2 linked regions of the Homo sapiens genome follow. The protein of the gene in region 1 interacts with the protein of each later gene in a pairwise test. Each region holds a gene or a part of one and is shown on either strand. Other genes may lie near its edges.

The links.
Region 2: the proteins of DLGAP1 (region 1) and SHANK2 interact in a two-hybrid assay, tested with the Homo sapiens proteins (one study listed by BioGRID).

Annotation. Positions count from the first base shown.
Region 1 is NC_000018.10:3,495,466-3,500,381, forward strand, and holds the end of DLGAP1 (disks large-associated protein 1), read right to left. Parts: intron 3,930-4,916; coding exon 3,720-3,929; 3' UTR 567-3,719; downstream 1-566. UniProt on the Homo sapiens protein: Part of the postsynaptic scaffold in neuronal cells.
Region 2 is NC_000011.10:71,249,454-71,257,283, reverse strand, and holds the start of SHANK2 (SH3 and multiple ankyrin repeat domains protein 2), read left to right. Parts: upstream 1-4,706; 5' UTR 4,707-4,859; exon of another isoform or gene 4,860-4,983; intron 4,984-5,411; exon of another isoform or gene 5,412-5,870; intron 5,871-7,830. UniProt on the Homo sapiens protein: Seems to be an adapter protein in the postsynaptic density (PSD) of excitatory synapses that interconnects receptors of the postsynaptic membrane including NMDA-type and metabotropic glutamate receptors, and the actin-based cytoskeleton.

The sequences.
Region 1 (4,916 bases):
AATTACCAATTTTAAATGTGGCAAGAATGACAGAGACGGCACTAAAGGAGCTCAATAAAGCCTTGGGTTCTGGACTCAGATCTGTCTTTTAATCATTGTGGCACATTGGGCAAGTCACTAAACCTCAGTGAGGCACAGTTTTTCATTATTGCAAGGATGGAATGGAAGCCACAAAGCATTTTTCTGATTTTCCCTACACTTGAGAGTTGTGTAGGAAACAAAGTGGATGAAATGTATGCAAAGAAATCAAAGTAGGTAAAACTGACATGAATTTGCACATTTGAAAGGCTCATCACTCCTTCATAAGATAGACAGTTATTCTCAGCTTCTGAACTGAAACTTCACGAGTGGGATTATCAGAGTAAAAGGACTTTTTAGTTCTTCGGTATTGAAACCCCTTTAAACAGGATGTAAGTTCTCCCTACGTCATCAACAACGAATAGCACACGTGCTGTACAGTGAAAGTTAGAATGATACGCTTCTTAATTGCAGAAGTATTCCCGTCAAAAGACAATAAAGCATATTTTGGAAGAAGTGGGACTCTAGTAAAAACACACAGACCTGAAAGCAGTGCATTAATTATTTTATTAATTTCTTCTTTTTACATTATGGGAAACATTCATCTATTTACAATATTTTTTTGTTCACACACAATCTAGGTAAATAAGCCTATGAAATTCCAATTCATAAAGCCATAAAAATGTTCCCACCCCTCCATCTGAAGGCTTTCAAATGAATCTTTTTTTTCCAAACCAAAATAATTTTTAAAAATTACATTTGGGAATTCAGATATGCTAGTGATTTACATTCCAGTTATTTAAAATATGCATCTAGACATGTTTTAAAAAAGAAATGGTAAATTCACAAGGATAAGGCTTAAATGAAAGTGGTAATGCACAGTAAAACATTAAGGAAACATCTATAAATAACAGAAATATATTACAATAAATTAGTTCTATTTACCATTTCAAATATTAAAAATCTTTAATCCATTTCTTCATCTCTCTTTACAAAAAGGTTATGTGAATTGTATGGAAACATCTGCAAAAAATATAATAAATACTTAATTTCTTTGAACGTTTTTTGATGTGGGAGACAAACTTCTTTTGTAATCCCCCCCTCCCCAAGAAAATGCCCAACACCTTTATACCAAAGTTAAACAAAATAAGTAATTTTTCAGGGTACATACATTTTCCATTACGAACTAAAAAACATTTCTACAAATTACATCAAAAAGAACAATGTAACAAAGGTTATGCTCATGAATGTCAGTTTCAGGGGTCAAGCAGCATTGTGTGGGGTCATGTTCTAACACCAATAATTAGCTTTTTATAAAGTGTTTGTACAATTTAAATTGTATTTTCAAGGAAGGCAAAGATCATGATGCCCTGTAGGCCTTGAGCTAAAAGATTTAAAATTCTTACCAAAAATAGCTTATGAATATACAAATGCCGTTCACTTAGACAAGATAAATAGGCCTTCTCTTGTCTCTCTTTAAAATATCATGGGCTAAATTAGTTTCCAAAGAAAATATTGTAGGATGATCTTGAGTCGTATTAGAAATCTATTTCTTAATCCAAATCTCAACTCTACCTCAGGGCACGGAGCTGTAATTGTGAGCATGGGTCTTGGGATGAACGCTGCTTCTTTCATATTAATCTGTGAGTTCCAAGTCATTCTCAGTATTGAATGTGACCATAGGCTACCCAAGTGGCAGTTGGCCCTACTCGATGCAAGCTTTGTGTGACTTTTAATTGCTGCTACAAGGTAAAGAAAAGGTGTATTCTTTTTAAAACTAGCAAATACTTGAAGCTCAAAATCTCTGTATGCTCCAATTTCACAAAGCACTTTGAGTGCTTTGTTCACCCTAGTTAAAAGTTGGTTCGTTGGTTTCAAAATAAGTGAGTAGCCCTTTTCTTGTAAACCACAGCAGTAAACATTTGTGCCCTGTTTATAAAGGTAGCTCAAAGCATCGATGGCTCTGAGAGGTAGCGAATTCTCTAGTGGTTTTAGAATATGTCCGTGAAAATATCTGTTGCTAGAACCCATCACCTCTCTTAATTTCATAAGTAAAATTAAATTAGCACCTGGCTATGAGAGTGTATTATTTTAAAAAGCTTCTCTGGTGCAAGCATGTTTGATGTATGTTTTTAAAAGTCTTTCGTTTTTAATTTCTAATGCTTTAGGATGTTAGCTGGACATAAAATGCCATTGATACTTAAGATTGCCACATCCTAAGTGTTTAAACTGTGACGAGTAAGGGCATTTAAAGACAACTTCAGCTAGACACCGATGCATACTGCCCATCAATCAAGACTAAAAATCTAAATCAACACTCTCTGCCAAAAGCCTTGACTTCTTTCAGTGTTTATGAATCATGACTCCCCCCACCTCTTCATGGCTGTTGACCCTGGCAGGTCGAGTTTCTTCTCTCACTACCTGGAACCTCAAGATGACAGCGGCAGCTCTTTTGAATGAGGCAGCATGTCTATTGGGGCAAAAATTTATTTTAGCCATTTGACACAGGACAGAATCCTATGCTAGGTATTACTGGACTCTGCAGTAGTGAGAGGAGATGAAAGGAGAAAATATATCTGAAATACGAACTACTTGGGTTAAAATAGACGGATGTGTAGCATTCAAAGGGATGGTAGGAAAACCCAAACTCTTCTCCAAAAACAGCCTTGCTGCCATTTACAGCGCTTTATAAGCAGATATGTACTTATATATGTGGAATCAGGTAGGCCCACCTGGATGGACACTTAACAAATTAATAGAACCAACACTTTCCCTTTAAAAACAGCCGCCACGACAACAATATAAATATACACAGTACAATAAGAGTTGAGAAAACATTTCAGGTCTAGATTTTCTTAATAATAGAACAAAAAAATCCCTTATGTAGTATACTAAACCATCAGTGCCTCCTTTGCCTTGCTTCATGTTATTGCCTTTCAGAATAGATTAATTTCCCTGAAAGATCGAATTTACAATCTTCTGCTGATTGAGACATTTGAAGCTGTGATTGATGAAGTAACAGTGAGGCAGTTTGTGCAGCTGTGAGTGTGCAGGTGCCCCCAGCACCTGCAGATTTCGCTTCTCCCATCCTTGCTACACATCCAGGTCCCCCACCCCCAGGCCAGGCTTGGTCCCCTCTCTCTGTGTCCCTCATGGATTCCAGTGAGATGGTGTGATTTCTGAGGTTGGGAATAAAGTGCTCCATCTGCTTTTTTAAAAGAATAACCATTTAGGGGAAATAAAGGGAATCGGAGGCCTAGTTTCTTTCACGTGGAAGACGGTAAGTCCCAAAGGATCACCCTGTGATACTGGATTTCTGAAATACCCTATGGTTTTATATTGCTGAACAGACTAGCTCGAGAGAACTGAGGACGGCGGGTGACCTAAAGGCATCACTTCTACACAGGTGGGTTTGGCTTTGCCCAGAAAATAAAGGGTTGGATCTCAGTATGAGGCAGGGCGACGGCATCAGGACAGGGGGCGAAGCTCGGTGAAGAAGGAGATGGGCAAACGGGTACGGGAAGTGGGGGGCTGAGGGGGGCCCGGGGGGCGGCTCCTGCGAGGTGGACAACTACACCGCGACAGTGGAAGTCACCGAGCTCGGGAGCGGACGGGCTCGGAGGGGGAGAGGCAGCCGGCAGAGGAGCGGCCGGGGGAGGAGGGGACAGATGCTTGGCGGCGGCGGCCGGGCTGCGGGGCGCTCAGAGCCGGGTCTGCGCCTCGGGGATGTAGATCTCGATGCTCTCGGCGCTCTCGGTGGCCGAGTTCTGGCGGACGGACGCGGCGCGCTTGGCGGCCATCAGGCGCTTGCGGGCCTCCTGGCGCTGCGAGCTCTCCAGCGAGCGCTCCCGGATCAGCGGCGCGGGGCCCTTCGCCGGCTTCTTTGGCACTGGAGGAGGGGCCCTTCTCTCCTGATCAAAGCAGAAGGTTCAGGACATTACACAGCTTCTCAGGACAAGCTTGGGAAAAACTGGGATAGGTCAGTAGTTAGAACACACAGTTTTTTACCTAGGGGTGGTTAGTTCTGATCTGCACACTGCATATCTACTTTTTTCTTCATTATTCTGGCTTGGGCATTCAAAAGATGCAGAAAAAAAAAAATCCCGGTAAGCTTAAGGCCCAGGGTAAGGCTGGGTTGCAGAACTAGGTCTCTCCAAGGGAAGGAAGTGGGTATTTTAAAGGCCCCCTGCGGAAAGCCTGCGGCTCCCAGCACATTGAGTGCGGTTCTCTCTGGAGACTCCAGACTCCTCCTGGTGCCAGAGATGGGCCAGGAAGCAGCGGCTGCAGCAGCATCTTAGAACCCCTGCATCCCCTCTAAGGATGCAAGTCACCGGGTGCAAGCTTGGTTCAGAGCTTAAAAACATCTCCGCTCTGTCCCCGGCCCGCCCACCGTCCCCTTCCCACCAAACCTAAATAAACAGAGGAGGAAGAAGAGATATCAGATTGTGTTCTTTAGCTTTGTTGGTGCTACACCAGGTTAGACCCTTTTGCACACCACACACGAACACACAAGCAATATACAATATACAGGGTCACGGGAGAGGGAGGCCATTGATATTTCCTACACTCGAGAGTTAATTAAGTCAGTTCCAAGGTGACTCTGACTAGGGGCCTCGGGATAACTGTGGTGGCCCAGGAAGCAATTCCAATCACAGGGGCAGAAACTGTGCCATGAAAAGTTGACACAGGATGAAAGAGGTCATTCCTCTTATCAGCAGCAAACTATGAAATGGGCGGATATTTTCAATGCCACTGCAAAAACAAAAGACAGTCATCTCTTTGGCATTAAAAAAAATGCAGCAGGAAAGAATGGCGTCTAGACCACAAAGGATTTTTAGGCAAAGAAGGTTGAAGTTGTAGACTGTGAAAGGGTGCACATAAAACTGATGTTTTCATTT
Region 2 (7,830 bases), on another chromosome or scaffold:
TGGTGACTTCAGGCGTCCTGACCCATGACACAAGACAGGTTTTTTTCCTGTTTGTTTTGTTTTGTTTTGTTTTGTTTATCTGTTTGTTTTGAGACAGAGTCTTCCTGTGTCACTCAGGCTGGAGTGCAGTGACGCGATCTCAGCTCACTGCAACCTCTGCCCCCCAGGTTCAAGGGATTCTCGTGCCTCAGCCTCCAGAGTAGCTGGGATTACAGGCACCCGCCACCATGCCTGGCTAATTTTTTGTATTTTTAGTAGAGATGGGGTTTTGCCATGTTGGCCAGGCTGGTCTCAAACTCCTGACCACAGGTGATCCGCTCGCCTCGGCCTCCCAAAGTGCTAGGATTATAGGCATGAGCCACCGTGCCTGGCCCACAAGACAGTTTTTAATATAGTAGTGCCCCCTATCCATAGTTTTACTCTCTGTGGTCTCAGTTACCCCAGGTCAACCAAGGCATGGAAATATTAAATGGAAAATCTCATCAATAAACAATTAATAAGTTTTAAGCTGTGTGCTGTTCTGAGCAGTGTGATGAAATCTCAGGGCATCCGGCCCCATCCCTCCCTGGATGTGAACCATCCCTTTGTCCAGTGTCTCCATGCAGCCTACACTACCTGCCCGGCCGGATCGTGAGATAGAAAAATAGTAATATACCGGGGTCAGTACTATCTGCAGTTTCGGGCATCCACTGGGGGGTCTTCGAAGTATCCCCTGTAATAAGGGTTGGGGGGGCACTGTATTATTTTGGGTTTCCCCTCAATGCTTTCCCTGAAACAAGGACTTGGATGCAGGCTCCTCCATTTGAGAGTTGACTCCAGGGAGCAGGAGTGAGGGAGCAGCGGAAGGGAGATGCAGAAGGAGGCCATCTCCAAATAAAGGTATTTTGTCCCGGACCCTGCTGTAAGCAACGGAGGCTCCAAAGGCCCTTCCTAGAAGCCAGAGAATGTGCCCCAGCAGGACTGTTCACCTGCTGGAGGGAGGCAGAGCAGCAACCTCTCCCAGCCTCCCAGCTCTGCTTCCACAAGGACTGGAAGTGGCCCCTCGGGGAATGAACTCCTCCATCCTACAGGATGCCCTGCACCCCCAAGGGAGGCCTGGGAGAAGGTGGATGACACCCTTGTTCCGGACGTGGGCCTCAAGGGAAGAGCTCATGGCCTGGCTGGGAAGCCTGGCAGACCCTGTCCCGCAGCTTTCCCTCCTGCCTGCTGCTCCCCACATCCTCCCGCTCCAGTGCAGCAGGAAAAGCTTCAGACCATCCCCTCTCATCAGCTCAGATTCCAGGAGAAACAAACTCTCCCTCCAATCTCCCAGGTGGCAGCCAAGATGCTTACGTTCAAAGTCCCAGGAGGCTTTTCTCAGCAAATCCATCCACATAAGCTCATGGAAAATTAATGGAGAGGAATAAAAATCCACAGTAAGCTAGAGGCGAGACGTGAGAGGCACTTCTGCACAGGAGTGAGAGGACATGTAAAATCTGGGAATCCTTACAGCATCAGGTTTATGTGATTGAATTAGAAGTTGTCACAAAATTGTGGAGAAATGAGTGAATTTTCCAGTATTTGACATGGGCGGGAACAGGACGGAAGTGGACCTCTTGCTGTAGTGGAAAACAAGTAGGAAAAAAATGGCAAAAGCACGGGAGAATCTGGCAGGGATGAGGGGATGTGGCAGACTTGCTGGCCAGAGCACCTACCTTTACTTGGGCATACCTGCCTTTAACTGGCTTCACCTGTGTGTGCTTGCCTTTACCTGGCTTCACCTGTGCACACCTGCCTGTGTGGTTCTGACCTCACGCCCTTGAGTGAGTCTCCTCCCCTCCTTGGACCTCAGCTTCCCACCTGTTAAATAACAGGGTTGCCTTGGGTTAGGCCACTCCCACTCGGGCTGTCTAAGAATCATTCTCTGAAGATGTGCTGGCCTCCAACTATTAATACATTAAGCCCCAAACCCAGGAGCTTCTCTGGGAGAAAGGGACTGCTGCTGAAGGCAGTGAGCATCTGGGTTAATCTAAGCCACAAAATATTTATAATGTTTTCCCCAGGACCAAAAAGGTGGCTATATCTCACATCCCTGATGGTATGGTGTCCCAGTTTCCAGTTCTCTATAAAACAGTTACTCTTCCCAGAAAGTCCTAGCGTGCTCAGGACCACACAGCGTGTACTCCACAGATGTGGCTGATGGTTTCATGGTTCAGGTTGGACAAGAAAAAAAGACAAGATGACCAGATGGAAAAGCTTACTCCTTTCTGCAAAACCTGGTGAATCCTGGAAGGCAGCTTCCAGAAACAAAACCGGAGGGTTCTGAAACCAGGAAGCCAGGAGGGTCATGTCTTCTTTTCCTAAACTGAACCTAAAACAAGGCACTTGGTGGTGTGTGTGGCTATGGGCCCCCCAGAAATTAGAATGCCAAAAGAGGTCCTACTTCAAATGAGCGGCGGGGGGTAGGTGTTCCCCTCAACCTGAGATGCCCGCTCAGAGCGTTAAGATGTGAATAAAGGCACTGTGGCAGCATTATCTGACCCTGAACCTTTTCATAAGAGCCTTTTTTTTTGGCTGTCAATACTTTTAGTTGACACATAATTGTACGTATTTATGGGTCCAGTGTGAGATGTTGATACACGTATGCAATGTGTAATGATCAAATTAGGGAAATTAGTGTATCCATCACCTGTAACCTTGATTTTCTTTGTTTTGGGATCATAAGAGATTTTTACAGACTTGAAGGATGTTGCTTCATCGGAGCACAAGGCTGAACTGGATATCTCTAAACAGACACAAAGAAACTGGGGCGTAAGCAGGATGCTGTCCTTAAAATGCCGAATGTCGGGGCTCTCACACAGCGCTCTTGTTGGCTAACAGATCAGAAAGACTGGAGGGGGATGGCCCAAGGGGTGTCCACTTGGGTGGAAGGCTGGCAGAGGCCTGCGTCCCTAGGGAAGTATTTCTTGGAGATAGCATAATGGCATCGGTCTTAAACCTTGCATGGAGATAGCCGAAAAATGTTCACAATTGAACTGTGACCAGCTGCCTGGTCTATCTGCAGCAGTGGTTCTAGAAACCTAGGAAGGGGTGTTCCAGGGGTGGGAATCTGGTGAGAGGAGGGAAATATCCTGAGGATAGGTCTTTGAGCTGGGTTTGCAGGGTAAATACACCACTTTATTCAGATGACTTGCCTTCTTTGGTGGGGAGGGTACTGATGGACTGTTATGGAAAGGTAGAGCCCCCACCCCCACTCCCTGCAACCCAGGTCTTGCATCTGCCACCGGCCAACCCAAAGAACATCCGATTGTCCTGCTCACACCTCTCCCAGGCACCCCAGCTTCCATGCCAAACAAAGGATGCCTGCAGGATCCTGTCAGGGCGTCCTTCTTCCTGTTTTGGGGATTATTATTTTTTGATTGATTGACTCCTTTATTCATTCAACAAATATTTTATCAAGTGTATGCTTAAGGAAGCAGCGACGAGAAAGACATTTACATAAGGCAGCTGCCCTCAAGGAGTTACAATATTTATTCCATGTGTGTCCTGAAATATTCAGGCCCCAAACACAACTTTTTTTTTTTTAACCTAAGTGCTTTTAAAGACTTCTTTGAAATGTGGGACAATTATGCAAGCTGAAAAAAAAAAGTATCTAGAGCAAATATTTAACTTTGCCTTTGGTATGTTGAAGTCACCAGCCCATGCAAACCTCTCAGGCATGTCCTGTAAGATAGACTGACTTACACACACACACACACACACACTCACTCTATGTAGGGGGCACAGTTAGGGGTTTGCATAATGCCGGGCTCCAGGGTTCTGGAGACAGTTCTACTCCACAGCTTGGACTCTGATCCCCACCCACACCTTCCAGAATACTGGAAAACTCAGAACACAGAGACCTCAAGAGCTTACTCAGAAACACGCAGCTCGTACTGGGGGAGACTCCCAGTGAATGATTAAGGCCTTGAGAAAATCTATCAGCCGATGGCTCACACGGCGGCCACAGCTCCAAGCTCAGGACCCGCCCCTTTGGGCTTCCGCAAACCTAGCAATCCGGAGTCCTGGATAATAACAGGATTCCTGGAGTCTCCGGAGGGTGCCTTTGGCCTCTGGGATTCACCCGAGCCGTTGGCTTTTGCTCCCCCCACCCCACCCCCTGGCTTTTCTTGGCTTGGAGGGCAGCTGGCGGAGATACCGTTGTGCACCCCTGGGCGGAAGGCGCCCCAGAACTGGTGGCCTGGGCAGCAGACGCCGGCGTATCACCCGGGTACAAAGTTTTCGTTTGCTCTGCAAACGTTTTGATGTGCAGGCAGCCTCTATTTCCAAATCCTATTATTATAAATACTCTGTGGCGGGAGCCAGCTGCGTTCGGGATAACCGTGCAGACCGAACCGGACTTTACAAAAATCAGGGACTTTCTCGTCCGCCGGCTTTGGCCAGGGAGGGGGAGGTCCGTGAGCCACGCAGCCCGGGGCGGGGCAGAGGCGGCCAGGGCGCCCCGCGGTCTCCCGGGGTTGCCACAACAGACCCCACGCGCACGCCCGAGCCGCAGCCGCGGGCGGGAGCGGGGTCGGGGCGGGGGACTGAGGTCCGCGGCGTGGGCGGGGGTGGGGGTCCAGGTCGGGTCGCCCGCGGGTCCTGGGCCGCACGCGTCCTTTCGGCGGCGAGAGGGCCCCTCCCCCACCCTCGCCGGAGCCAGCTCCCGCGCCGGGCGGGGCCGGGTCCTTCCCCACCCCCTGCACCTGAGCCGCGGCGGCGGCTCCTGAGCTCCGGCGGGGCTGGGCGCGGCGCCGCTCGGGTTCCCGCGGCCGATCCAGGTGTGCGCGGACGCTGGCGCTCCCGGGGGGCTCGGACCCGCCCCCGACTCGCCGAGCCAGGTGAGGCGGCGGCCGGGGACGCAGGGCGCGGGCCGGGGAGGACGGGAGGTGGCCCTTGGGCACCCGATCCTGCTCACTGACGGCATTTTGGGGGCATCTCGATTCCGGGAGCACCAACTACCGGGTAAGCGCAGTCCTGGACCCAGAGAGGCTGGAGAGGTGGGCGCTGGGGGGAGTGAGCCGCGTGTCCAGGTGGGGGTCGATTTTCCGTAGAGAGCCCTTCCCCCTGCATGCCTTTCTTCCCGGGCAGGGGCCGGTGTCGAAAGCTTTGGAAGCGGCGTGGGGGCAGAGCGCAGGAAGGAGCCCCCGCTTTATCTCCTGCGCGCATGGACCACGTAGTCTCTGGCGCGTCCTGCCCCTTCCTCTGGAACAGCGCGTGTGGCGCGACCTCCCCCGCTCTCCCGGGGTCTCCTTGCCCCGGGTCACCGCCCGCCAGCCCTAGGACCCGGGCCAGCGAGCCCAGCGGAGGAGCCGGCGCGGGGCCGCCAGGTGGCGCGCGGGGGCGGAGACCCGAACCGTGGCCGCCAGGTCCCCCGAGACCCCGCTGCGGTCACCCTGGCCCTGCACGCAGAGCTCCCATCCAGGCGCGCGCGGCGGCAGCAGCAGCTGTCGCGGAGAGGCCGGGGCCGGCGCGCCTGGTGCGGGCCCGGGGGTGGCGGGTCGGGCGCCCAGGTCCCGGGGGTCGCGCTGAGCCACAGCCGGGTGCCCGACCCCGGCCCGCCGTGCTCACCAGCTGGGATAGGGAGACCCGGCGGGCGCAGCCCGGCCGCCACCGTCCGTGAATTATGCAGGAAGCTGGCACCGGCGCGCTCGAGTTGATCAAGTTTCCCTGGCAACTTTCGCCCGGGCATCCCTCCTCCCCGGCGGCCGGGCAGCTCCGCCCGCCCAGCCCGCGGCCCAGGCGCCTCCACCGGGTGGCCCCGGCCCCGGGCGCCAGGCGCGGGGACCGCTCCCAGAGACGCCGACAGCGCACTCGTCACTTGGGCTGGAGCCGCCGGACTGAGCCAGCAGGTGCGACCACCGCAGCGGGCCTCGCCGCCCGGGTTCGGGGGGATGCGGGGGCTGGGGTGGACCTCGCCGCCAGGGTTCTGGGGCTTGGCGTGGGGGTGCAGCGCGGCGCCCTCCAGGCGGGTCTGCGTGCGGACACCCTGCTCGAGGTGGGTGGGCGCGTGGGCGAGGCTTGCCTTTCCGTGGGGCTGGAGCACCCAGAGGGAGAAAGGGTGGTGCAGGTGACCGTGGGTTTTCGCAGCCGATCTTTTAAAGGGGCTCGGGGCGCCTGGAACTGAGAAGGCGCTCGAGCCAGGCAGGTGAGGGGTGGGTGGTGGGGGGGTCAGGCGAAAGTACGTAAGGCTCTCGGGGGCTGGCAGCTGCTGGCAGGGGCCTGGGCGTCCTCAGAGGCCATCCGAAAATAAAGTGGTTTTCGGGTGGAAATTCGAGGTTGTAAATTGGATAGTTGAGTGACCTCTTTTTCGTTTGAAACTCAAGTTCGAACGTTAATGAGGCCAATCAGCTAATTAAGCTTCCAGATCCAGAGAGGTAATTTCGGAAGTCCCCCGGTGGGGGAGGGCGATTTGATCTCTATCTGGGATGTGGGCCTCGGTTTTGCCGACCCAGCCACAAGGGAAGTTCTGCGCCCCTGGAAAAGGACCTGGCAGATTCAGCCTTAACCCCGGTGCCCTGCGGTCCGCATCACATAGTTAGTGACGCCCTTCTGTGCACTAGGAACCGAGCCTGGTGCCCCAGAGGGTTCAGCAGGTCCAGAACAGCCCCGGGCCGATTGCTTTTGGAGTTTTCCAACTACTTGTGGGTTGGAAACAAGGTTGAGGGTCCTAATAGGGTTGAGCCTGTGGGGGTGGAGTGAGGAGAGCGAGCTCGGCCCCCATCTGGGTTCAGTGTTAATTCTGAGGGAAAGCCGTCGTGTCTGCTCTAAGAGGGGGATTGGTAGGTGGGAGCTGTGGGTTTCTATGCCGGATGTCACTGTCCTCTGAGGGGGCTTGAGGGAGACTCTTGTCCTGATAGGAATCTGGGTGTCCCAGTAGTGCCTGAATGATTCAGCTCCTGGGAAGCACTGTCTATATAAGGCCTCTGATTCCATTATTACACCCAGGAATTCCTTGTTTTCCTGGAAGGAAGAATTGGGTGGAAAGCTTGGTGCTTCTTTGGGTCCCTTTGGAAGGAGGTTGGAATTCAAGTATCAAAGGTAACTCTTTACAAGTAGGTGATTTCACCTATAAAGATGATCCCAGAGGGCTCGGTTGACAGCACTTGGCTGCTTTTAACAAATTAGATTCCCCCCCACCCCCGGGGAGGGGGGCGGTCTGTTGGGGGGATCTTTCTGTGTACTGTCTCCAAGTACAGTCTGCTATAGAAAACCGTATTCCTATTTGGGTGAGTTTCAAGATTTTCATTCATTCATTTCTTCATTCAGGTGCTTAGGGTTGTATGCAGGGCCATGCTGGCTTCTAGGGGTCTTGGTCTAGGCCTGGGCTTGGGGAGCCAGGTGATATCAGATGTGAGTGCTGCCCAGAGGAAGGTAAAGGGATTCTGAGACCGCATTGCATTTTATATTTCATTAGTGACGAGGAAAAGGATGGGAGAGAAAAACGGGCCGGGAATTAACCAGTATACAGAAACACACTCCTAAAAATGGCTCTTTATAGGAAGGCAGTGCTTTAGCATACTTGCCTTACTTCCAAATACGTAACAGAGTTGCAGACGAGAGAGTTCTGGGATCCCCGTCAGTCCCGATGAGGACTTTTCTAAAGTGGGGCTCAGCTTGGGAGTTGCTGCAGGGCCTGAGGTTGTGCCTCCTACTCTGAAAGAGTTCTGGGCCTGGACACCTGAGGTCTTACCTGCCTGCAATTCCAGCCTCCTGCTTTGTAAACTCAAGCCGGAGCTTTCACCTGGGGCTGTTGTACCTGGAGTCTGAGGGCCCCTCCTTGGGGCAGCAGGGAGGGTGTGGCTGAGAAAA